7 linked regions of the Homo sapiens genome follow. The protein of the gene in region 1 purifies or fractionates together with the protein of each later gene. This does not show direct contact. Each region holds a gene or a part of one and is shown on either strand. Other genes may lie near its edges.

Evidence for each region.
Region 2: the proteins of CCNJL (region 1) and OS9 purify together in Homo sapiens (affinity purification with mass spectrometry; one large-scale study listed by BioGRID and IntAct). This does not show direct contact.
Region 3: the proteins of CCNJL (region 1) and ARHGEF1 purify together in Homo sapiens (affinity purification with mass spectrometry; 2 studies listed by BioGRID and IntAct, with this or other methods). This does not show direct contact.
Region 4: the proteins of CCNJL (region 1) and RSPRY1 purify together in Homo sapiens (affinity purification with mass spectrometry; 2 studies listed by BioGRID and IntAct, with this or other methods). This does not show direct contact.
Region 5: the proteins of CCNJL (region 1) and MTO1 purify together in Homo sapiens (affinity purification with mass spectrometry; 3 studies listed by BioGRID and IntAct, with this or other methods). This does not show direct contact.
Region 6: the proteins of CCNJL (region 1) and TROAP purify together in Homo sapiens (affinity purification with mass spectrometry; 3 studies listed by BioGRID and IntAct, with this or other methods). This does not show direct contact.
Region 7: the proteins of CCNJL (region 1) and TATDN2 purify together in Homo sapiens (affinity purification with mass spectrometry; 2 studies listed by BioGRID and IntAct, with this or other methods). This does not show direct contact.

What each region holds. Positions count from the first base shown.
Region 1 is NC_000005.10:160,278,065-160,281,564, forward strand, and holds part of CCNJL (cyclin-J-like protein), read right to left. Parts: exon of another isoform or gene 2,846-3,500; coding exon of another isoform or gene 2,789-2,845; intron 2,675-2,788; coding exon 2,461-2,674; intron 1-2,460.
Region 2 is NC_000012.12:57,700,632-57,704,131, forward strand, and holds part of OS9 (protein OS-9 isoform 1 precursor), read left to right. Parts: intron 1-3,500. UniProt on the Homo sapiens protein: Lectin component of the HRD1 complex, which functions in endoplasmic reticulum (ER) quality control and ER-associated degradation (ERAD).
Region 3 is NC_000019.10:41,893,184-41,896,683, reverse strand, and holds part of ARHGEF1 (rho guanine nucleotide exchange factor 1), read right to left. Parts: intron 3,411-3,500; coding exon 3,381-3,410; intron 2,478-3,380; coding exon 2,378-2,477; intron 2,234-2,377; coding exon 2,137-2,233; intron 2,059-2,136; coding exon 2,023-2,058; intron 1,336-2,022; coding exon 1,198-1,335; intron 308-1,197; coding exon 202-307; intron 1-201. UniProt on the Homo sapiens protein: Seems to play a role in the regulation of RhoA GTPase by guanine nucleotide-binding alpha-12 (GNA12) and alpha-13 (GNA13) subunits. Acts as a GTPase-activating protein (GAP) for GNA12 and GNA13, and as guanine nucleotide exchange factor (GEF) for RhoA GTPase.
Region 4 is NC_000016.10:57,189,329-57,192,828, reverse strand, and holds part of RSPRY1 (RING finger and SPRY domain-containing protein 1 isoform 1 precursor), read right to left. Parts: intron 1-3,500.
Region 5 is NC_000006.12:73,464,737-73,468,236, reverse strand, and holds part of MTO1 (5-taurinomethyluridine-[tRNA] synthase subunit MTO1, mitochondrial), read right to left. Parts: intron 2,029-3,500; coding exon 1,829-2,028; intron 1,749-1,828; coding exon 1,631-1,748; intron 1-1,630. UniProt on the Homo sapiens protein: Component of the GTPBP3-MTO1 complex that catalyzes the 5-taurinomethyluridine (taum(5)U) modification at the 34th wobble position (U34) of mitochondrial tRNAs (mt-tRNAs), which plays a role in mt-tRNA decoding and mitochondrial translation.
Region 6 is NC_000012.12:49,321,851-49,326,054, reverse strand, and holds the start of TROAP (tastin), read right to left. Parts: upstream 2,801-4,204; 5' UTR 2,706-2,800; intron 2,452-2,705; 5' UTR 2,447-2,451; coding exon 2,303-2,446; intron 2,211-2,302; coding exon 2,018-2,210; intron 1,909-2,017; exon of another isoform or gene 1,901-1,908; coding exon of another isoform or gene 1,781-1,900; exon of another isoform or gene 1,667-1,780; intron 1,564-1,666; exon of another isoform or gene 1,479-1,563; intron 555-1,478; coding exon 397-554; intron 309-396; coding exon 171-308; intron 1-170. UniProt on the Homo sapiens protein: Could be involved with bystin and trophinin in a cell adhesion molecule complex that mediates an initial attachment of the blastocyst to uterine epithelial cells at the time of the embryo implantation.
Region 7 is NC_000003.12:10,258,459-10,261,958, reverse strand, and holds part of TATDN2 (3'-5' RNA nuclease TATDN2), read right to left. Parts: intron 1,823-3,500; coding exon 1,289-1,822; intron 1-1,288. UniProt on the Homo sapiens protein: Mg(2+)-dependent 3'RNA exonuclease and endonuclease that resolves R-loops via specific degradation of R-loop RNA stucture. Shows no activity against D-loop and minimal activity against the RNA strand of an RNA-DNA hybrid duplex oligomer.

The sequences.
Region 1 (3,500 bases):
GCCCAGCTAATTTTGTATTTTTAGTAGAGATGGGGTTTCTCCATGTTAGTCAGGCTGGTCTCAAACTTCTGACCTCAGGTTATCCGACTGGCCTGGCTAATATTTTTGTATTTTTAGGAGAGACAAGGTTTCATCATGTTGGCTGGGCTGATCTCAAACTCCTGACCTCAGGTGATCCACCTGCCTCTGCCTCCCAAGGTGTTGGGATTATAGGTGTGAGCCACCGCGCCCAGCCTTCCTGTCTATCTGGAAGCAGATTTAAAAACCTGAGATTGACAGGTGGGGGGGCAAGAACCCCAGCTCTTCTTATCTCAGAATAATTTGGTACCAAATTAGCAGATCTCCAAACTTCCCGAGGCAAGGGGATCCCCCTTGTGGCCCACAATGGCCTGGGGAGAGGGGAGGAGGGAAGAATAGGATTTCAGGCTGTCATGGAAACTTTTCTTCCCTCTGGTCTCTGCAGCATATGGCAGGTGTCCTGAAAAATCTGTTCCTGCTGCCCGAGGCTGTGCTGCCCTCAGACACGTGGGTGGGGGCGTCTGCCTCTCTGTCTGAAACGTCCCCTCTCTCCGCCAAGGTGGCAGCAGCACAAAGGAGTCTCCAGTGTGTGCCTCACATCCCAGCTCCCCAGACAGACACTCGGGGAGAGCTTCCATGGCCCCATGGAAATATAAGTCCCCTGCCCCCAGCGGGCCGCGATGCAGCCCACAGATCACAGACAGCAGCAGGCCAAAGGCCGTGGCGCAAATTTCTCCTGTGCTGCTTGAAATACGATGCCCAGTGTGCCCTCCACAGCCGGAGATGTTTCACAAGCCCCGCAGACGAAAGGGGGCTGCACGTTGATTTGGGGTGCTGAGACAGGCTGGACACCCAGCAAGACTGGCTCGCATGTGTAACAAGGGAATCCAGTTGGCCAAAGGTAGAGAAAAATCACCAAATGTGGGGCTATGAGCCTAAAGCAGCCAATGGGATCACGAACAACAGCAGGTAAAAGGTGCCAGCGTGGAAAACGAGACAGAATTCTGAAAACTCTAAATCTGTGCTTCCGGAACTGGGTGATCGTGCCCATGGGGTTTATGGAAGCCTGCCAAAAGCAGACAAAGCTACAGGAGAAAGTGGGTGCCATAGTCCTGCAGCACCAAGCAGGATGAAGGATGGAGGGGCAGGGAGGGGAAATGAATAATGAAATAGGACACAAACATATCTCAGAGGAGAATGTAAAATCTGACTGTCAAGGATAAAATACCAGATGTCAAAGAAATGTCCTAATTGTACCTGGCCACTTTGAGCCTGAGGCCTCTGGGGCATTCCATTCCTCTGCATTAGGGCAACTATAGAAGTATAGAGGCCTGGCTCTCAAGGAACCATTAGCTCCATTAGTTTCATTGATTACACAGATTATTTTTGAGGTCTTACTATGTGCCAAGCTCCTTTCCATCCCTGAAACTTGCTATCCATGGGGGGTGGTGGTTGTTCATTCAAAGCACATGACGCTGAGGGTCTGCATACTTGGGAGACCTCACCTGCTGAGGGCAGTGGGGGAAGGTTTTCACAGGGATCTAGAGCCTCGGTGATGTTTACCCAGAACCAGGTGGGCAGCGGGAGGGAGGGAGAAGCAATCCAGGTAGAGGGAACAGCATGTGCAAAGCTCTATGACAAGAGGGGGCTTGGCCAGTGTGGCTGGAACCCAGGAAGTGATGAGGAGAAAGGCACAGGGCAAAGAGGCAGGAACTCAAGGGTTGGTCTTTAACCTAAGACTGCCAGTAAACCATGGGATGATGTTAAGTGGAAGGGTGGCATGGCAGAACTGTGTTTTAAGGAGATCATCCGAGTAGCAGCGAATTAACACAGTAATCTCTACCAAGGCAGACAGACAGATGGTCAAAGCTACGCTGTGTTTTTAGTGAGGCCTGTTTGGAAGGTGCAAACCCCAAGAGGGCTGTGCCCAGGCCTGGTGACCACACAATGGGTCCTGCTTAGGTCCAAATCAAGCAGTCACATTTCAAAACACCTTATGAACAGTGGTTGCTAGGGTTCCCCTCCCAGCACGTTCATATCCCCCATACCAGGAAGCAGGAGACAGGAGGTTGAGGGCACAGGTTCTGGCACCAGGCAGTTCTGGGCTCAAATCTTGTCTGCCATATACTACCCGGGCAGCCCAAAACTGGCTTCGTCACCTCTCTGTGCCTCTGTAAAGTGGGGTATACTAAGAGTATCTGCCTCCTAGGGCCACTGTGTGGATTGAGACAAGCTGCTAACATCCTTATCACTTGGTCTGGTACATTAAAGATGCTAAAAAATGTTGCATCTAAAAATGTTGATGCTAAAAAACGCTCAGTGAAGGATGAACATATAAGACGTGCAAAGATCGTCAAAATGTAAAGTGATTTGGAAGCAGCCAGGCGCACTGAGCGGGAGGAGACCGCACAAGCGCGGAGGAAGACGTAGGTTTTCGCTTACTTGCAAGCAGGAGGCAGGAGACGGCCACGGTGTAGAGCTGCTTGGAGGTGGTGACGTTGTAGCGATCCATGAAGTGGTCCAGCAGGTAGACGGCCAGGTGCCGGGCTGCAGGGCAGAGCTGGCAGTGGCTGCTCAGCAGGGTCAGGATGTCCACGAAGAACCGGCGGCTCTTCAGGAGTGGGGAGTGGGCTCGGAAGGTGGGCAGCTTCAGTTCCTGGAGGACAGGCGGGGCGGAGGGGTGACGGTCAGGGCTGCCTCCTGAGAGTCTCGGCTGTCCCAGGAAATGGGACCTCAGGGCCTGAATGGGAGGCAACGATTCCCTCCATACCCTTCTTAGTTTTCCTGCAAGTCCCAGGATGGCAGCCCCGCCTGGGCTATCTCCCATCTGCTTTCACTAAGCACAGGCTCATAAAGTATCAAGGACCTAGAGGATGACAGAGGAAGCCAGTCATTCCTTCCCATGGGAAAGGTTTGCTATTTGAGATACACAAGGCCATAAAGGAATAAAGGCATTGGGGTCAGAGGTCTAAGTCCAAATTCTTTTTTTTTCCCCTAGGGTCTGGTCTGAAGTAACACATCCAAATTCTGGTTCCACTACTCAGCCAAGTTGTGTGACCCTGGTCACCTGCCATCACCTTTGTTTCCTCCTCGAGAGCTGAGAACTAAATTTAAAATGTATGCAAAATGCCTAGCACACCTGTGACCTCTCAGGATCCACATCTAATTCTTTCTGAGGGTAGGATTACGAGAGACGGGTTTTTGAAAAAAATCAACCTAAAAAAGTTGTTGAAATAATAGTACAAGGAACTCCCAAATACCCTTCACCTCAATTCCCTAATTTTTGACATCTGCCTTCTTTTTCTCTACATGCATATACATTTTTTTTCTAAAAGTAAGTTCAGATATCATGATACTTCCCACACCCCTGGGAGGTGACTAGATGACTTTTACTTCTACTTTGCAATATATATACTGCCACATTACCTTATTTTATTTGTCTAACTCAAGAAAAACCAATAAAAGATATCAAACCAACAAAG
Region 2 (3,500 bases), on another chromosome or scaffold:
ACTGGTTAGCTATATGGAATTAAATAAATTCCTATTTATTGGTGTGTGTTTTAAGATGCAACAGACTAGAACATGTTGAAGGCTGTTGGGTGGATGTTAGCGGAAAGGAGGAGAGGGAGATCAAGGTACAGTAGAAAAAGTGAGAAAAAAATGCGGACAGGGCTGGGATGCAGAACCCTGGGAGAGCAATTTGCCTCTAAAGGAAGGTCTAGGGTAGTAGACCAACTCAATTCTTATAAAGTAAGATTCTAGAGATATCAAAGATTTTTTTAAGTTATAAAACATACAATTATACAAAAAAAAATGTCATAGAGACCCATAAATTCACTGCCAAGTTAAACAGATGTTAATGTTTTGCCTGATTTGTTTCAGATCTCTGGTTTAAAAAAAGGAATAAAATGCTTGTGCTAATAGCTAAAGCCCACCTTCATATTTAGTCACTCTCCCTCCCGCCAGAAACAACCACAACCCTCACTATGTTTGTTTTGTATTTTTATTACTGATATATATATTACAGACAATAGATAGTGTTTTGTGTTTTAAAATTATACATCAGGAGTATCAACTTGTTTTTTTCACTGATCAGTGTGTTTGCCATTCAATGGCATGACATGGAACTCTGGTTGAGTGATTTTTTTTTTTTTTTTTTTTTTTTTTTTTTTGAGACAGAGTCTCGCTCTGTCACCCAGGCTGGAATACAGTAGTGCAATCTAGGCTCACTGCAACCTCGGCCTCCTGGGTTCAAGCGATTCTGCTGCCTCAGCCTCCTGAGTAGCTGGGACTATAGGTGCCCACCACCACGCCCAGTTAATTTTTATATTTTTAGTAGGGAAGGGGTTTCACCATGTTGGCCAGGCTGGTCTTGAACTCCTGACCTCAAGTGATCCACCCACCTTGGCCTCCCAAAGTGCTGGGATTACAGGTGTGAGCCACCGTGCCTGGCCTGGTTGAGTGATTTTAATGTCTGTATTGTGTTTCATTGCTTACTTACCCATTCCTCTGTTGATAAACAGTTGGGTTTCAACTCTAATGCCCTTATACACAGTGCTGCAATGTAGGTCTTATTGTGAGTGTACAAGAATTTCTCCAGGGAAATACCTAGAAAGTAGAATCACTGGGTTACAGGAGTGTATGTTATTGGTGAATTCAATTTTTTGTTTGTTTTGTTTTGTTTTGTTTTTTGAGATAGAGTTTCACTCTTGTTGCCCAGGCTGGAGTGCAATGGCGTGATCTTGGCTCACTGCAACCTCCGCCTCCCAGGATCAAGCGATTGTCCTGCCTCAGCCTCCTGAGTAGCTGGGACTACAGGCGCCTGCCACCATGCCCAGCTAATTTTTGTATTTTTAGTGGAGACGGGGTTTCACCATGTTGGCCAGGCTGGTCTTGAACTCCTTACATTGTGATCCGTCCACCTTGGCCTCCCAAAGTGCTGGGATTACAGGTGTGAGCCACCATGCCTGGCCCTCAATTTTTTTAATGATTGAAAAAATATATAACCTAAAAGTTATCATTCTAACAGTCTTTAAGTGTACAATTCAGTGGAAACATTCAGTGTTCTATCACCATCACTACTATTTCCAAAACTTTTTTCATCATCCCAAACAAAAATAACTCCTATTTCTCCCTCTCCCAGACTCTGTTCTACTTTCTGTCTGTATGAGTTTCCTGTTCTAGGTACTTCACATGAGTGAAATCATACAAGATTTGTCCTTTTGTGTCTGGCTTATTTCACTTAGCATGGTGTTTTCAAGGTTCATCCATGTTGTAGCATATATCAGAATTTTATTTCTTTTTATGGCTTAATCATGTTCCATTGTCTGTATATACATTTTGTTTACCTATTTATCAATGGATGGACAAATAGGTTTTCATCTTTTGGTTACTGTGAATAATGCTGCGATGAACATTGGTGTACAAGTATCTGTTTGAGTCCTGTTTTCAATTCTTTTGGGTCTGTACCTAGGAGTAGAATGTGCCTTATGGTAATTCTAGGTTTAGTTTTTTGAGGAACTGCCAAACTGTTTTCCATAGCAGTTGCATCATTTTACATTCCTAGTAGCAGTGCACAGGGTTCCAGTTTCTCCACACTACCTCCATCACTTATTTTCCTTTGTTTTCTTTTTCTTTTTTTTCAGTAATAGCCATCTTAATGGGTGTGAAGTAGTATCTCATAGTGGTTTTTGATTTGCATTTACCTAGTGATTAATGATGTTGAACATCTTTTCATATGCTTGGTGACCATTTGTATATCTTTTTTGGAGAAATGTCTATTCAAATCCTCTGCCCATTTTTGAATTGAGTTGGTTTTTGTTGGTGAGTTGTGAGAGTTCTTTATGTAATAAATTCTGAATATTAATCCCTTATCAGATCTATGATTTGTAAGTATTTTCTCCCATCCTGTGGTTGCCTTTTTACTATCTTTTGTTTTGCTTTGTTTTTTGGAGACAGAGTTTCACTCTTGTTGCCCAGGCTGGAGTGTAATGGCGCGATCTCAGCTCACTGCAACCTCCGCCTCCCAGGTTCAAGCGATTCTCCTGCATCAGCAGTGTCCTTTGGTGCACAAAAGCTTTTAATTTTGATTTCCAAGAGTTTTATAGTTTTAGCTCTTAAATTTAGGTCTTTGATTCATTTGAGGTTAATTTTTTTTTCTTAGAGATGGGGGTCTCGTTATGTTGCCCAGGCTAGCCTCAAACTCCTGGGCTCAGGTAAGCTTCCTACTTCAGCTTCTGAGTAGGTGGGATTATAGGGGTGTGCCATTGTGCCCAGCTGCTGATTTTGAGTTAATTTTTGTATGTGGTGTAATTTTTGCATATGGTCCAACTTCATTGTTTTGAATATGGATATCCAGTTTTCCTGGCATCGTTTGTTGAAAAGACTGTCCTTTCCCCATGGAATATTCTTGGTATCCTTACCAAAAATCAGTTGACCATATATGTGAGGGTTTATTTCTGGCCTTTCTATACTATTCCATTGGTAAATATGTCTGTCTTTTTGCCAGTATCACACTGTTTTGATTATAGTAGCTTTGTATTAAGATTTAAGTCAGGAAATGTGAGTCCTCTAACTTTGTTCTTTTTTTAATATTGTTATGGATATTTGGGATCCCTGGACATTCCATGTGAATTTTAAGATTTTTTTTTTTCTATAAAAAACACCATTGGATGCCTTTCATTTCTTTTTCATTCCTAATCACTCTAAAACTTCCAGTATTATGTTGAATAGAAATGAAAAGAATGGCTGTCCTTGTCTTGTTCCTAATCTTAAGGGAGAAGCTTTCAATGTTTCACCATTGAGTATGACGTTAACTGTGGGTTTTTCTTATATGGACTTTATCAATAACTGAAGACATTCCCTCCTATTCCTAGTTGATTGTTTTTTTACATGAAAAGGTTATTGAATTTATCAAGTCCATTTTCTGCATCAGTTGAGATGATCATTTGGGTTTTTTCCCCTTCATTCTATTAATGTATATGACATTGATTTACCTATGTTGAACCATC
Region 3 (3,500 bases), on another chromosome or scaffold:
AAAGGGGGGCAATGAGGAAGCAGGAGGGAGATGAGAAAAGGAAAGAAGAAGGGAGAGGAATGGCCAGACCCAGAGAGCAGCAGAGGAGCATGGGGAGCAAGAGCCTGGGACAGGCAGGCACAGATGGCAGCGGTGACCCTGCACCCACCCACCAGCGCCCAGTAAGCCACACCTCCCGCCCCTGCACCCCAGCCTGGGCACCTCTCGGTTTCGGCCCCCTCGTCGGTACTCTCTGGGGGCGCCAAGGACTCCAGGCTCATTGGGCCCTGCGGGGATGAGTCCCCCAGCTCCAGGGGGGCGTCAGCACCTGTGGGGTGGAGGGAGCAGGGCTGGCTGGAAGGCCTCTGCGGCCACGAGACCCACACTCTGGGGGCCTGGAATTGCGGGGGCTAAAGCTACCCAGTGCCTGGCAGACACCACATGGCTGCTCTGTACTTCAGCACGGGACGGACAGATGTTAAGACCTCTCAGAACATGGCCACTAGGGGCAGGAGCATGAAGATGCAACAGAAGTGGGTGCCCCTGTGTGTCCTGGGTGGATGGGGACCCCAGGCCTAGCAAATAGGTCACAAACATCTCTCCCACCCAACCAGACTGCAGCCCCCTGAGGTCGGGAGGGCCCTGGATTCTGTGCTGCCTCCACGTCCATTCATCCTCCCCACCCTCTCATACTCCTTTAGAGAAAAGCAAACGGAGGCTAAGAAAGGGGAGTCATATCCAAGATACTAAATAAACACAAGCAGTCAGCAGAGCTGGTGTGTGAGCCCTGGCCTGGCCATGCAGAGATCCAAGGGCCTGAGGCCACAGCAGTGTAAGGATGGTGAGGGATGAAGCTCATGGGGCTGGCGGGCTCCCCACCTAGGGGGCCAGCAATGCAGCTCAGAGGGTGGACTGGTCATGTACTCAGGGAAGGTTCTGGAAAAGGAAGGGTTGATGGAAAACGTAGTCCAAGGGGGTGGGAGACGCAGCACCAGCAGAGAGGTCAGAGCCTGGGAGCAAAGCTGTGGAAAGGGCAAACTGAGGGAAGGGGAAAGTTATGAATGACAGTGGTGACCAGGAGCAGGGAGAAGTGGATGCTGAGAGCAAAGGGGAGGTGTTGCTGGGGAATGGCTTCTATCTGGGGGTGCCAAGGGGGCAGGCAGCACCCCCACCCTGGATCGCCGGGCCTCATGGAGCCCTGGCCCAGGAAACTCTCACCTGGTTCCCGGTCTGGGCTGTCCAGGGACAGAGGGTGCAGAGAGACTCCAGGGGTGTCCTGCCCAGGAGCCCCGATATTCCGGTCCCGAGAGGGCATCCCCACGCCTCCCTTCCGGTCTGTAGCACCTGGCTTCTCGGCTGGGGAGACAGTGAGGGAGAAAGAGGGAGATAAGAGAACAGTAACTCAAATCCACAACCGCCAGGGGATGCAAGAGGCTGTGCTCAGGCCCTTCCCCACCATGACAAGGAGCCCCTTCCTCCCTCAGACCCAGGAGCCCTCAACCCCTCCTCCCTCAGACACAGGAGTCCAGGCCCCCAGCCCCTCCTCCCTCAGACCCAGAGGTCCAGGCCCCAGGCCTTCCTCCCTCAGACCCAGGAACTCCCCCAGCCCCTCCTCCCTCAGACCCAGGGGTCTAGGCCCAGCCCTTCCTCCTCAGACCTAAGAGTCCGAGTCTGAGCCGCTCCTCCCTCAGACCCAGGGGTCCAGGCCCAATCCCTCCTACCTCGGACCCAGGGGTCCAGGCCCCAGGCCTCCCTCCCTCAGACCCAGGAGCTCCCCCAGCCCCTCCTCCCTCAGAGCCAGGGGTCCAGGCCCAGTCCCTCCTCCCTCAGACCCAGGGGTCCAGGCCCAGCCCTTCCTCCCTCAGACCCAGGAGCTCCCCCAGCCCCTCCTCCCTCAGACCCAGGTGTCCAGGCCCCCATCCCCTCCTCCCTCAGAACCAGGCGTCCAGGTCCCAGCCCCTCCTCCCTCAGACCCAGGCGTCCAGGTCCTAGCCTCTCCCACACAGGCCCCCAGTATGGATGCTATGGCTACAGGTACATTACCATCAACCTCTGCTTTGAGGTGTCGAAAATCTGGAACTGAAACGAGAGAGAATGAGACAGTGAGTGGGAGCAGCTGGGGAAGACAGGGGAGGGCAGAGGCCAGAGCCGCCTTACCCTGGGGCTCTCCCCGGTTCCAGCGGGCGGCATCCAGGATGCTGCTCAGCCCCTTCTTGGTCTTGGCAGGCTCGTCCGACCGCCGGTTCCCCATCACCTGTGAGAGGGCGGGGAGGAAGACCAGGCTAAGCATCTCTGAGACAACAACAAAGCAGAATTTGACGCTAGGTATCCAGAGTCATGAGGCTCCCAGGGCGTCTCTGGAGAGGAAAGGGTCAGGACGGGGCACTGAGGGAAGCACCTTTTTCCGGAAGAAGTTCCTCCCCGACTTCTTGTCTCCACTCTTGGTCCGCACCCCAAGGTGGCGCATGTACAGGCCAATGGCGTTGACCACGGCAGCACTGTAGGGAAGGGACAGTGAGGGCTCAACACACACAAAGACACACACACACACACACACACACACACACACTCACACACACACTCTCTCTCTCTCCCCCTAGAGGCAGAGGCCCGGCCTTCCCATCCTGACCCCACAACTACTTCCTGTGAGACTCTGAGGAGAGATGAGAGGGTTCAAAAGGACAGGGGCAAGGGCTGTTACCCAATGCCCAGGACCCAAGTGTCCAGGCCCCAGGCTCCTCCTCCCTCAGACCCAGGAGTCCAGGCCCCCAGCCCCCTCCTCCCTCAGACCCAGGAGTCCAGGCCCCCAGCCCCCTCCTCCCTCAGACCCAGGAGTCCAGGCCCCCAGCCCCTTCCTCCCTCAGACCCAGGAGTCCAGGCCCCCAGCCCCCTCCTCCCTCAGACCCAGGAGTCCAGACCCCCCAGCCCCCTCCTCCCTCAGACCCAGGCGTCCAGGCCCCCCAGCCCCCTCCTCCCTCAGACCCAGACGTCCAGGCCCCCCAGCCCCTTCCTCCCTCAGACCCAGGAGTCCAGGCCCCCAGCCTCCTCCTCCCTCAGACCCAGGAGTCCAGGCCCCCAGCCCCCTCCTCCCTCAGACCCAGGCGTCCAGGCCCCCAGCCCCCTCCTCCCTCAGACCCAGGCGTCCAGGACCCCAGCCCCCTCCTCCCTCAGACCCAGGCGTCCAGGCCCCCCAGCCCCCTCCTCCCTCAGACCCAGGCGTCCAGGCCCCCCAGCCCCCTCCTCCCTCAGACCCAGGCGTCTAGGCCCCCCAGCCCCCTCCTCCCTCAGACCCAGGCGTCCAGGCCCCCCAGCCTCCTCCTCCCTCAGACCCAGGAGTCCAGGCCCTCAGCCCCCTCCTCCCTCAAACCCAGGAGGCCGCACGCCTCCCCTGCCCCCCTCACCTCTTTTCTTCGTCGGTAGAGATGGTATGTCTGTAGGAGGAAGAGAGATGTTTGTGACATATTTGCTAGGCCTGGGGTCCCCATCCACCCAGGATACATCTCAGGGTTGCTGTCCTGGGA
Region 4 (3,500 bases), on another chromosome or scaffold:
GAGTGAGGGGTGGGAGGATCGCCTGAGCTGGGGAGGTCGAGGCTGCAGTAAACCATGATCGCACCACTGCACTTCAGCCTAGGAGACAGAGTGAGACCTTAAAAAAAAAAAAAAAAAAAAGAGTCTCTGGAAAAACCTTCCTCTAAAAAGTTGAGAGCTTTTTTAACCTAGTAGCAGTGCATCTGTGGTCAGAAAGAATTACAGAATATAGTCCTGACCTAAAATGGTACAAAGGAGAAAAGACAAATCCTTTCAGCATTCAAATAATTTACTAAAAAATAAAATTTAGGCCTAGGATAGAGTAAGGAATTTCCGGAAGCAAATAATAGTAAAAAAGGGGAAGTAAATAATCCCTGCCTGAAATCTTAAGGATTGAAAAATTTGCCTTGGACTCCCAAAAAATACTAAGGAAGAATTGAGGTAAATGCTTATGACGGTTGCAGTACAGGGAAGAAAAACAAATGTAATATTCCGTAGTACTTGTGGTTTTCCCCCCAGGAGGCCAAATAATAGGAGATCATGTGTTATTCAAATATACACAAATCTGAAGGAAAAGGATTTTTCTATTACAGAAAACTCTCTGCTCTTAAGAAAAGCAAATAAAATATATAAGCAGCATGAATATCAACATTTTCCTTAATGATGTCTACTTTAAATGATGTCTAAAACACTCATACTGCATACTCATTTGGATACTTATTAGACCCTAATATGTATTCAATAAATATCTTAGGTGAATTTATTCTAAAATCTGTAACATAAAGTCTCTCCAAAATATTTACCATTTTGAAAAACTGAGACAACACCATTCAATAACTATATATCCAATGCTTATATGGCAGGCAGTGAGGAAAGACGGAAAAAGGTCCCTCATGCTCCTGACAAAGGGAGCTGGGGTTAGGGACAAACTTAGCTCCCTACCCAAAGACTACAGATAAAGCATCTACTAGAAGGAGGCCTCTTGTTCCATCAGTTTTCCAGTGTAAAAGGAACTTTGGTAACACTGAAGTACCTCTGTGTGAGCAAGTTTTTAGGTGACTATACAAATCAGCAATAGCAAAAGGGGACTAGAGAATCTATCTTTGCATTGTAACACATTTATGTCTTACATTATAAGCCAAAATATTGTTGGTATAAATATTCCTGCCCACACAATGAAAAGTAAACAAAAAAACCTATAAATTAAATTGATAAAGATGAAGTTAAATAAAAATTCTAATAAAAAAAGAGGAATCATGATGAAAACTGACATTATTTTGAGACAATTCAGATGATGCACCCCAAACTAAGCATACTTCCTGAATACTGCAGGAATCCCCATTCTGCATATGACATGTGAGAAGCTTGTATTGGTGCCAGGTTTCCCAGGACAGACTTCCTGGGCGAAAAAAGTATTAAGAGACCACAGTAAACTCCAATATTGTTCTAGTTTTAGGTTATGAATACCATGTTTTAGTAATCCTTAGTAATTCACTTGGTAGGTTATTAATAAGTAGCCCTTAGGCATACCTAAGTATGAACAACTATGAAGCAATAAAAACTTAAAAAAACAAACAAACAGTGCTATATTTCCCATGTGGAGGGACTGGGCAGAAACCACATCTTGAGAATCACTGCATTAAGGGAACACAAGAGCGAAAACAATTCTTCAGGAGGTAGAGGGGTAAGAAAAAACTAACACTGAACATTAAACTATGAGGTAATATACTTGCTGAGTAAGGTATTTCAAACCTTCTATTTGAGGTACATAGGACCTATGAAATTACGCCTGGAAACTATAATTTCAAGCAACAAGAAAGCTATGTGCAGAGTTCATTCCTTAACAAATTTAAGGAGTACATAAATTCCTTACTATTTCAAATGTATTCTCAGTTTTCAAAAGCTCAGAAACAAAGCGGAATGTTCTCTAAGAGGCCACCACTATTTATAAGATAACTTTTCCTGATTTAACCTTGTATATACCACACATTTATCTAAAGTTACTACTTTTACATATTTAACCAGCAACCACTCCCTTTTGGAATGGACACATTTGTATGTTTTCTCTACTCACAAAGGTTGGCAAGAAAAGGATTTCAAAAGCTGACTTACTGAATGATAAACCAAAGGGAAATATTCACTCCTTTGCACTTCTAAAAGTTGTAAAAGTCCCCTCCAAAAGGCTGTTGCCCAAGTTACGGCATTTACTACTTCGTGATTATTCTGCTTTTCAATTTTCTAATTTGAATATCAGGGAAAAAACTACCCAAATTCAATGATAACTGCCTTGAAAATGCCAAAAGCTTGAAGAGAAGCTAAATCCATAGTTTATTATCCCCAAATAATTCTTTTGAAATAGATTGCTGGTTCCACTGTGTTTCCCATTTGTGGTGACTACTGACTTTCCACTTATTTTGCAATCCTGAGACTATCACACCCCACTTTACAAGTATCCTACTAAAAAATACAGAACATTTCCTATTTATTTATTTGAGACAGGGTGTTGCTCTGTCACCCAGGCTGGAATGCAGTGGCTCACTGCATCTTCAACCTCCCAGGCTCAAGAGATTCTACCACCTCAGCCTCCCAAGTAGCTGGGACTATCTGCATGTGCCACCACGCTGGGCTAATTTTTGTATTTTTTTGTAGAGATGGGGTTTTGCCATGTTGCCCAGGCTGGTCTTGAACTCCTGGGCTCAAGTGATCCTCCCGCCTTGGCCGCCCAAAGTGTTGTGATTATAGGTGTGAGCCACCATGCCCAGCCATAACTTCCAATCTTAAGTAGTGTAATAGTGATTACTACCTTCAAGAATTCCTAACATTTTCTCCAAACTATATAGAGTGTGAAAGAAAGCTGTATTTAAAAAGATGCAAAGGGATTTCCCACTTCATTAGAACAAATTACTTCATTGTTAAGGAAAGCATATACAATTCTCAACAGACTAAATTAAGCTCACGAGGCCAGGCATGGTGGCTCACACCTGTAATCCTAGCACCTTGGGAGGCCAAGGTGGGTGGATGGCTTGTGCCCAGGAGTTTGAGACCAGCCTGGGCAACATGGCGTAACCCTGTCTTAAAAAAAGTGCAAAAATTGGCCAGGTGTGGTGGCTCGCACCTGTAGTCCCAGTTACTTGGGAGGCTGATGTGGGAGGATCACCTGAGCCTGGGAGGTAGAGGCTTCTGTGAGCCGTGATTGCACCACTGCACTCTAGCCTGAGAGACAGCATGAGACCCTGTCTCAAAAAAAAAAAAAAAAGAAAAGAAAAGAAAAAGAAAAAACAGAAAAAAAGAAATACAGAATAATTGTTTGTTAAACTCTTGACAAAACACACTTTTTTTTTTTTTAGCCTCCAGGCCCCACAGTGCTACATAACTCAGATTTGTTGTTTTTACCTGATTCACTACAGATTAACACACTATTATACAAAATGCTAAGTTTTTATTTCCCTTTGATACTTACTAAATGAAAAGTTATTTTGCTGACAAAAGCAGAAGCCCACATAGAGTATGCTGGTATACCT
Region 5 (3,500 bases), on another chromosome or scaffold:
CTGAGGCAGGAGAATTGCTTGAACCTGGGAGGGGAACGTTGCAGTGAGCCAAGATGGTACCACTGCACTCCAGCCTAGGCAACAGAGCCAGACTCTGTCTCAAAAAATGTTAATAGATGGCTGGGTGCGGTGGCTCACAGCTGTAATCCCAGCACTCTGGGAGGGCGAGGCGGGTGGATCACAAGGTCAGGAGAACAAGACCATCCTGGCCAACGTGGTGAAACCCCATCTCTACTAAAAATACAAAAATTAGCTGGGCATGGTGGTACGTGCCTGTAGTCCCAGCTACTCAGGAGGCTGAGGCAGGAGAATCGCTTGAACCCGGGAGGCTCAGGTTGTGGTGAGCCGATATCGCACCACTGCATTCCAGCCTGGCACAGAGTGAGACTCCGTCTCAAAAACAAAAACAAAAACAAACAAACAAAAAAAGTTAATAGATAATGTCTAGAACTGTAAATTAGGAAGTAAAAAGATAAGCCTGCTATTCAGAAATATGGAAGTATATACAATAAGTGACAACTAAAAAAGCTGAAGTGTCTGTCTCCAGGGAAGGAGATGGTTGTTTTCCCACATAAATTTCTAAATTTCTTTTATATTTATTTATTTATTTATTTATTTATTTTGAGACAGAGTTTCGCTCTTGTTGCCCAGGCTGGAGAGCAATGGTGTGATCTCGGCTCACCACAACCTCCGCCTCCTGGGTTCAAGTGATTCTCTGGCCTCAGCCTCCTGAGTAGCTGGGATTTCAAGCATGCGCCACCACACCTGGCTAATTTTGTATTTTTAGTAGAGATGTGTTTCTCCATGTTGTTCAGGCTGGTCTTGAACTCCCAACCTCAGGTGATCTGCCTGCCTTGGCCTCCCAAAGTGTTGGGATTACAGGTGTGAGCCACTACACCCAAACTTATTTTTTATTTTTTTTTGACACAGGGTCTCACTCTGTTGCCCAGGCTGGAGTGCAGTGGCATAATCACAGCTCACTGAAGTCTCAACCTCCTGGGCTCAAGCAATCCTCCCACTTCAGCTTATTGAGTAGCTGAAACTACAGGCACCTGCTACCACACCGGCTAATTTTTGTATTTTTTTGTAGACATGAGGTTTTGCCATCTTGCCGAGGCTGGTCTCAAACTCTGGGGCTCAAGCAATCCACCTACCTCGGCCTCCCAAAGTGCTAGGATTACGGGCATGAGCCACCATGCCCAGACCCTTTTAATATTTTAAGAAAAAATTATATGCATGAGTTATTTTGATAAAAAACATACATAACTCTTTTACATAAAAATATATATAAGCTGTTAAAATATGAATTTTTTAAAAAATTAAAGTCAGAACCAGAAAAAACAGAAATTACAATAGAAAGATGGGGAGAGAGGGAGACATAAATATGCAGATTACAAAGTTCTACACTAAGATGGAACATGGTACTGATGAGCCTAGAATTTGACTGAGCATCATAAATGCCAAGATGAAAAGAGAAACATATTTATTTATATAGTTTTCCTCATCCAGGTAGAGAAAATGCAACAAGTTCCTTGAATAAGCAACATATCTCCACACTTTGCTCTAAAATAAATTTCTCACATGGAATTTGATATGCTGTTATCATACACCATCTATAACCAATACGTACCCAAAACAACCCCACTGACACGGCATTTCCCAGTGTGTTCAGGCTCTGGTTCTGTAAGAATAAGATCTTCTACAGCTCCCTCCTGAACAGTAAGCAGTGGTGTATTCAAGATTTCTTTCTGTCAAAAGAAAATGCCAGTTGAAACATGGTAATTAAACAATCACTATAATCTTTCCTGTGCTCATGCCCTATTCTTACCTGCATGTTCTGTTTATAGAGTTTCCTATCAATCTGAGCTCTCAGACCCCACACAGCTGGTCCCTTACGCCGGTTTAATACTTTATAATGTACACCAGACTGGTCACAGATGCGAGAACACAGGCCATCCAAGGCATCTACTTCCCTCATTAAATGTCCCTTTCCGATGCCACCAAAGGAAGGATTACATGACATCTGACCTAAAGATAATAGACATAAACAAAATAAATATATGAGCACCTTGCACATAGTGACTACTTAATAAGGAAACATTTATACAGGTGACTATAATCATCTCATATGATAAAAAATAGAAAACGTGAAAGATATACTACAAAGAAAATCCCAAAGACCCAATGGGATGCAAAAGTGTCCAGGGCAACCTGGATGACAAACCACTTCCTGAACTTCCTTTTGTTTTTTTTAAGATGGAGTCTCACTCTGTCACCCAGGCTGGAGTGCAGTGGTACAATCTCGGCTCACTGCAACCTCTGCCTCCTGGGTTCAAGCGATTCTCCTGCCTCAGCATCCCGAGTAGCCGGGATTACAGGTGTCCGGCACCACGCCTGGCTAATTTTTGTATTTTTGGTAGACGGGTTTCACCATGTCGACCAGGCTGGTCTCAAACTCCTGACCTCAGGTGATCTGCCCACCTCGGCCTCCCAGAGTGCTGGGATTACAGCCGTGAGCCACCGCGCCCGGCCTGAACTTTCTTTTGAATCTCTTCCTTGATGCATATTTTTACTGTTTCACTAGGTTGCCTTTTCCTTTCAAACATGTAATCCTTACCCCATGAAACCTTTCTAAACCAAGTATACTTGGTTTTTAAATTTGTTCTTTTTTGATACAGCACCAGAGGAATCTACCAAATCAAGCACACTTGTAAGAAGTCCCTAGTCCTTCAACATAAATAAGGACAAAAATAAATAAATAAATAAAAAACAGGGCCGGGTGTGGTGGCTCACGCCTGTAATCCTAGCACTTTGGGAGGCCAAAGAGGGTGGATTGCTGGAGCTCAGAAGTTTGAGACCACCCTGGGCGACACGGTGAAACCCCGTCTCTACTAAAATACAAAAAAATAGCCAGGCATGGCAGTTTGCACCTGTAATCCCAGCTACTTGGGAGGCTGAGGCAAAAGAATCGCTTGACCCTGGGAGGCTGAGGTTGCAGTGAGCCGAGATGGCACCATCGCACTCCACCCTGGGTGACAACAGTGACTCCATCTCAAAAAAAAAAAGAAAAGAAAAAAGAAAAAACAAAGAAGCCCCTTGGCACTGGTTCAGTTACAACCAATTATGTCTTCCATAAATGCCATCTGATATCTCCTTTTTGCACTTACTTTGCAGAATTAAATATAATTAAATTACAAATTTCTTGTGAGTGAAGACCATATTTTATACCTTTCCCTTACATTTACCCAGTCTTACCTGGAGGTCTAAACCCATGTGGTTACCTCAAAAGTTTTTGTGGGAGGTGGAGGGATGGGCAAGTTATGTCAATATCCACATATCCACTGCCACCACATCAAGAATCAAGACCTCCAAAAGTTTTTTTTTTTTTTTTTTTTTTTTTTGAGACAGAGTTTCGCTCTTGTTGCCCAGGCTGGAGTGCAATGGCACGATCTCAGCTCACTGCAACCTCCACCTCCCGAGTTCAAGTGATTCTCCTGCCT
Region 6 (4,204 bases), on another chromosome or scaffold:
TGAAAACGGAATCAGAGGTGGACCCCAAACCCTCAGGCCTCACCACCAACCCCATCTCCCCCAGTAGGATCCCTTGCCTCATCATGAGGTACCTCTTCTCCCAGAGCCCAGCTTTGTCCCTGGAAGGAGCTCCCAGAAGCACCGACTATCAGCCCCTCAAGGGCACTCACCAGAGCCTGTAGCCTCTGGGGGCACAATGTCCGGCCTCGAGGTCCTGGTCCCTCCAGCCTAGAGAAGCAGGAAGCCCTGGCAGGGTCCAGTCGGTGGGTGGGGGTTCTGGGGGCCAAATATGCAGAGGCCCGAACACCCTGGGACACCAACAGAGGCTGTCAGCACTGCTCAGGATGCCCCCCTCAGTGCCCCCTAGCCTGGTCTCCTCACATCCTGTTTCATTACCTGGACCCTCTGGGTGGTGCCTCCCTGACTTCCTCGAACCAGTACTCTTTTAGCCAGACTAGGCTGGCGCCCCAGGTGACAGCTCTTCACACCCTCACCTGACAGGATGGTGGCCAGGGCTGCAGGGTCAGCCACAAACTCTATGGTCCCTGGAGCCTCTGCAAGGAAAGAGGAGAAGGAAAAGGAAGGGGGAAGGCTGAGGGGGATAGGGCCCCTAGCATAGGAACTTTGAGGTACAAGGTGAGCAAGAGACTCATTCAATTGAATTTGGCTTATTTTTTTTTTTTTTTTTAAGAAATAGATGGCTGGGTGCAGTGGCTCATGCCTGTAATCCCAGCACTTTGGGAGGCCGAGGCGGGTGGATCACCTGTGGTCAGGAGTTTGAGACCAACCCGGCCAACATAGCAAAACCCTGTCTCCACTAAAAAAATACAAAAATTGGCTGGGTGCGGTAGCTCACTCCTGTAATCCCAGCACTTTGGGAGGCTGAGGCAGGTGGATCACCTGAGGTCAGGAGTTTGAGACCAGCCTGGCCAACATGGTAAAACCCCATCTCTACAAAAAACAAAAACAAAAAAAAATTAGCTGGACCTGGTGGCGCGCGCCTGTAGTACCAGCTACTCAGGAGGCTGAGGCTGGAGAATCACTTGAACCTGGGAGGTGGAGGTTGCAATGAGCCAAGATCGTGCCACTGCACTCCAGCTTAGTGACAGAGTGAGACTCTGTCTCAAAAAAAAAAAAAAAAAAAAGAAAGAAAACAAAAATTAGCTGGGTGTGGTGGCAGGTGCTGGTAATCCCAGGTACTCGGGGTGAGGCATGAGAATCGCTTGAACCTGGGAGGTGGATGTTGCAGTGAGCCGAGATCATGCCACTGTACTCTAGCCTGAGGGATAGAGTAAGACTCTGTCTCCACAAAAAAAAAAGAAAAGAAAAAAAAAAAGAGAAAAAGAGATGGGGTCTCACTATGTTGCCTAGGCTGGTCTCAAACTCCTGAGCTCAAATGATCCTCCTGCCTCGGAGGAGTGTTGGAATTACAGGCGTGAGCCACCACACCTGGTCACCAAATGTTCATAGAATGTTACATAAGACACTATTCTAAGCACTGGGGTCCCATAAGAATAAGACAAAGCCCCTATCCTCAAGAGGCTATCATCAAACTATAGACAGGTAACAGACTCAAGCCAAGGTATATACATGTTATAAAAGAAGTGCTGCAAAGTATTAGGAGAACACAGAGCAACTGATTGTGACATGGGGAACTGGAAAAGGCTTCAGAAGAAGTGATATTTATTATTTATTTATTTATTTATTTTTTAAAGAGATGGGATCTCCCTCTGTCATCCAGGCTGGTCTCCAACTCCTGGCCTCCAGTGATCCTCCTGCTTCAGCCTCCTGAGTAGCTGTGATTACAGGTACAAGCCATGGCACCTGGCGAGATGACATTTTGCTGGAGGAAAGGGAGATCTTCTAAGAGCAAAGAGCTTTCCAGGAGCTGGGACCAGGACTATCACAGTAAGTAGGAGACAGCAGGAGTGAGTGCAAAACCCCAAAACCCCACTTTTACCCTTCCTAGTCCCCTACTCAGCCATGGAGGCCGTGTTACCATGGCTCCAACAGGTACCTGTCTGGGCAGGGGGCCCAGGCCCCACATTTTGACCCCTAGGGCTAGGCCTGAGCTCTTCCAAGGGGTTCCGAGGCTGACTGATCCCCACCAATCTTTGTGATGTCTCTGCCTGGTGCCTGGCTTTCGGCCTGGGGCCTGCTGAATCAACGAGGGGGCGTTGAATATTGAGCGGTGGTTTCTGCACCCATCTCTAGGGGAGGGAGCGGGGACAAAAAGGTGAGGTTTAGTGTTGGGGTGCATTACTGGTGTGACTACTGTCTTCCCCCATTAGGCCCCTCTTACCCTTGGATCTTGGTTCTCCTGGTCCACGGCGCACGATGTAACAGTGGGGAAAGGCGTGCGTTTCTGAGAGCGTACCGGAATCTTGCTAGGGGTAGGAGATACACCCCGGAGGAGGGGATCCTTCGTGGCTTGCCGGGTGGTCATGATGGCTACAATTGAGACGGGGAAGAAGGCAGGCAGAATCTAAGATCAAAGATCAACCAGTTCTCGGGGCACCTGTCCTGCCATCCCTGATACCTCCGCCCTAATCCACGCGCCCACAAGCCCCCGGCGCCTGCAAGACCGCTCTTATGGGTGCTATCTCCAGACACCCCGAGCCTACTCTTTCGCCCTCGGGCCCCAAACTGCCCTCCTCCCTATGAACCCAGCAGCCTTCGTTCCCTTCAAGACCCCCGTGCCTTACCTTACCGAGGCCCCTCAGGGCCTACCCAGCTTCCTCCGCTTTTCTCCTGACCCTCTCGGGTGCTGCTGGAGCTACTTTCTCAGTTTGTAAAATACGCCAAGCTCTTGATTGGCCCGGTCGCGCTCCCGCGGAGGCCCGCGTAGCCAGACTCAGCCGTCCAATCCGCGGGCATCGCAGGAGGGGCCAAAAGAAGGACCAATTGTCGAACCGCTTTCTGGCGAGGAAAAAAACTGACTCGGATCAATCAGCCAATCCGAGAGTGGAGCGCCGCTGGGAGGCGGGGAAAGAGGAAGGATGGGGCCGTTCCGAGGCCGGGGAAGGCGTAGCCACGGGAGCTCTCGCGAGGCCTCAGGACCGGCTAGGGGCCGGCCATTGGCAGGACCGGGCGAGGTCGCGGTACTGAGGGTACAGTTGATCGTTCCGATTGCTGCCAACGGTGTTGAAGGCTGGCCCGAGCCCCCGACCCGGCTTGACCATAGCACGGCGCCAAGCTTTGGGGACGCCATTCCAGATGCCCATAGAAAATATCTGCGTCCGGGCGCGGTGGCAGGCGCCTGTAATCCCAACACTTTGGGACGCCGAGGCGGGAGGATCTCTTGAGCTGAGTTTGAGACCAGCCTGGGCAACATAGCGAGACCACTCCCACCCGTTTCTCTACAAAATAATAAAATAATAATAATAATCCCTGTGCAGTGGTGCGCGCTTGTAGTCCCAGCCGCTCTGGAGGCTGAGGCAGGAGGATCGTGTTGAGCCCAGGAGGTTGAGGCTGTAGTGAGCTGTGGTCGCGCCACTGCACTCCAGCCTGGGCAACAGAGACCCTGTCTTAAAAAAAATAAAGAGGGAAAGAGAGAACATCTGTACGTTGTCTCCGGGATAAGGAACTGCCTTCAAACGGGCGGAGAGGGCTGGAGGGAATCGAACTGAGCCTAACAATATGTGTGCTCCTTGGAGCCTCACAATCCAGTGAGGTGTCTGATGAGGTGTCTTTCATTTTACGGGTAGGTAACAAGACTCATTGTTTTTGAACTCAGTTACCACAGCACCAGAATTGAATGGCTACTCACAGCTGGGGATTTCCTTGCCTCCAGGTTGCCTTTTGCAGATCTAGAGGTCTGGGGAGAGGGGGCTCACCTGCTGGTTATTGGTGGGCAAGGCTGTGAGACTGAGAGATCCTAGAATATCCTGCTTAAGATGGAAGGGGTAACCCCTAACGGGGGACAGGAAATGAACAACACTTAACAGAACTCTGGTGGATTTTCCCCACCAATCACAGAAGTTATTCTTACACAAGCCAGAAACCGAGGAGTTACTCCTTAACTCCTCCCACTCCCTTTACATATCCCATCTCTCATTCACTCTCACTAGTTTTACTATTTATGCATTTTTGGGACAGGGTCTCACTCTGTCGCCCAGGCTGGAGTGCAGTGGTGCGATCTCAGCTCACCGCAGCCTCGGCCTCCTGAGGTGGGAACCTCAGCCTCTCAAGTAGCTGGGACTAC
Region 7 (3,500 bases), on another chromosome or scaffold:
AACAAATCTTACACAGACTTAACCCAAAAGGTATTCAAGCCACACAGGGAGGCTGCAGAAAGGGGAAGCTAATGTGTCCCTGGGTGTGGGTGCTTCTGAAGGAGGTATAGAGAACTAAATTCTCATCGCCCAAGCAAGAAGTCCTCAGACATCTAAAACTGAAAAACTGATCAACAGTAAAGATTATTTAGAAACATGGGGTAAGTACTAGAAGAAAGAGCTAAAGATGAGAGAAGCTGCCTGCAGAGCAGTAGTAAAGGATGGGTGGAGACGAGTAAGATGGAGGAATGTGGCCTGGCACAGTGGCTCATGCCTGTAATCCCGGCACTTTGGGAGGCCAAGGCAGGTGGATCACGAGGTCAGGAGTTCGAGACCAGCCTGGCCAACATGGAGAAATCCCATATCTACTAAAAATACAAAAATTAGCCGGTTTGGTGGCGCACACCTGTAATCCCAGCTACTCAGGAGGCTGAGGCAGGAGAATTGCTTGAACCCAGGAGGTGGAGGTTGCAGTGAGCCAAGATTGCACCATCGCACTCCAGCCTGGGCAACAGAGCAAGACTCTGTCCCAACAACAAAAAAAAAAAAAAAAAGAAAAAGATGGAGGAATGCTTCCCCTCAATTATAAGCTATGTTAAAAATCACTAGTTTCCGTCCAATGACATCCTTCCCTTCTTCTCTGGTTATCCAGGTACAAGTCTGCCTAGATAAAGGCTGATTTTCCAGACTCCCTTGCAGCCAGGTGTCAGCCGGGTTTCCCCGCTCTTGTCAACAGCAGATACAACATGTGCAACTCTTGAGCCAAGCTCTTAACAGGGAAGGAATGCACTCTCCTCTTCTCCCCTTCCCACTGGCCAGAATGCCCAGATAACAAACCCTGAGTCCTATCAGAGTATCCATTTCACACCAAGAGATGGACACTGTGTTGAGGGGTGATAGAGAATCAAGACAAAAGGTACCAGTATCTCTGACATGATGGAGCCATCCTTCTTAAGCCAAACTTATATTCTGTTTAAGCCACTGTGATTTTGGCCTTTTACACAGCAGCTAAACCCATATCCTAACATATAAATCCTTCAAAAAAAAAAAAAAGCACTTAGTTTAGGTTTATTAATAACTCTGAAAATCTGAAAAGTATGTTAGAAGAAAACCATCAGTTTGTTCCCTGGAGGCCTGGTTAAGTAAAGTACTATTTTTAATTAGTAACACTTAGGATCAAACTAGAAAGATGGAACACATTTCATCAACAGAACTAAAAAGTCAGATGCCTGGTACAAGCTTTACTCACCTTTTGGATTTCTAAATGAGAGTCAGAGTCATCCAAGAACTCTAGGGGTGGAGAGCATTTGTCAATGACAGTCCTTCGGTCCCCAAGGGGCTCCTCACTGGGTTTCTCTTGAGGGTCTATAACTACTCTCCTGTCATAGAAGCTGCTCCTCTCTGGCACTGTCTTATCCTCCTCCATGCTGACCTCTGGGGTTGCGTCTTTCTCCTTCTGAGCAGCAGTGACTGTGACACTCCTGGCTGCTCCTTCTGCAGTCTTGGCTGGTCCTTCACTCCTGGCTGGTCCTTCTCCATGGCTGGGATGCTCTGCTGCGCTTGGTTTTGCCCGAGTGGCAGCCTCTCCCTTCCTTTTTGGCATCGATTTCCCCAGGATGCCCTGGATAGCCTTCAGGTAGATCATTGTGGAGCCCTGGTCTCGAAGTCTATCCCTCTTCCTTTTCTGGACCTTGTTGGGTTCCTCAATTGTATCATTCTGACCCTCAGCTTCAGCTGCAAATTCAGAGTTTGTGGAGTTATGAGAACTATCTTTGGAATCAACCTGGGAAAAAAAAAACAGAATTGAAAGGGCTGTTCCAAGGGCACTTTCGTACATGAAGCATTTGGCAAATTATAAATCAGTGGTGGTTCTACCAGTCAAAGGGAAAGTGACTGTGGCTAAGGCAAAGGTTCTCTCCGGGTGGTGAAGTGGCACTGTAAGAGGGGCTGATTGCTGCCATTTCTTAGCATTCGCCTTCTCATGCTCAGCAGATGATATCCTTTCACTGCAAGGGGACGGAAGGAGCTGAAATGAACACTCTCATTAAACCAGACTGCAAGCTCCTGGAAGGCAAGGACTACACTTCAGGCAAAACAGCAGCTCAAGCTCTTCCCACTGGAAAGGGCCCTAGAAACCAGCTAGCCCAATCCCATATCTAAGGGTAAAGGAAACCTGAGGACCCAGTGAGGGGAAGGGCTAGCCCCAGGAACTCCAATCCCCCAGTTCTGAGTGCAGTGTTTTTCCCACCATACCCAAAGCCTCCTGAAAGTTCTCTGCAAACACTTCCCCTCAAATAATCAACTTGGTTTTGGAAAATACCTCAGTTTCTCAGTGACTGCACCAGGGTCAGTCAAGATAGACTGCTCCCAACAACAAACCTCCTCCAAGACGGAAGTGAAGCCTCAGCCCCCTCTTGCACCCACTCACTCCAGGACTCCACACAGAAAAAGCTAGACTTTGTTTGCCAGACTATTTTGATGTGAAATTCTAATCCAGTCTAATCCCTGCCGGGTGTAAGAACTCTCCACAAATGTCCTCCTAAGGCCATTCCATAAGCAGTAAACCATTATCCCATTTGCATTCCTAAGTCATTTCTATTAAATTCCTCTCAAAAGTAAATACAGACCAGGTACAGTGGCTCATGCCTGTAATCCAGCACTTTGGGAAGCCGAGGCAGGTGGACTGCTTGAACCCAGGAGGTCGAGACAAGCCTGGCCAACATGGCGAAACCCCATCTCTATAAAACACACGGGGCGCGGTGGCTCATGCCTGTAATCCCAACACTTTGGGAGGCCAAGACAGGAAGATCACTTAGGCTCAGGAGTTCAAGACCAGCTTGGGCAAGGTGTCAAAACTCTGTCTCTACTAAAAATTACAAAAATTAGCTGGGCCATGGTGGCACACGCCTGTGATCCCAGCTACACGGGAGGCTAAGGCACAAGAATCGCTTGAACCTGGGAGGCAGAGGTTTCAGTGAGCCGTGACGGCACCACTGCACTCCAGCCTAGGCAATACAGTGAGACCCTATCTCAAAAAAAAAAAGGCAAAATTGCTTTATATGTATATATTCGCAAACAAGTCTAAAAAGCTAAACTGTTTATAATGGATCTCTTTGGGGAATGCAGGGAAGTAGAAAGAGACTTAGGCTCGGCTGGGAGCAGTGCCTCACACCTGTAATCCCAGCACTTTGGGAGGCCGAGGCAAGTGGATCACCTGACATCAGGAGTTCGAGACCAGCCTGGCCAACATGGCAAAACACTGTGTCTACTGAAAATACAAAACTTAAGCCAGGCATGGTGGCGGGCACCTGTAATCCCACTTACTCAGGAGGCTGAGGCAAAGAATCGCTTGAATCGGAAGGCAGAGGTTGCAGTGAGGCAAGATCGTGCCACTGCCCTCCAGCCCAGGCAACAAGAGCAAAACTCTGTCTCAAAAAAAAAAAAAAGAAGCAAAATAAAAA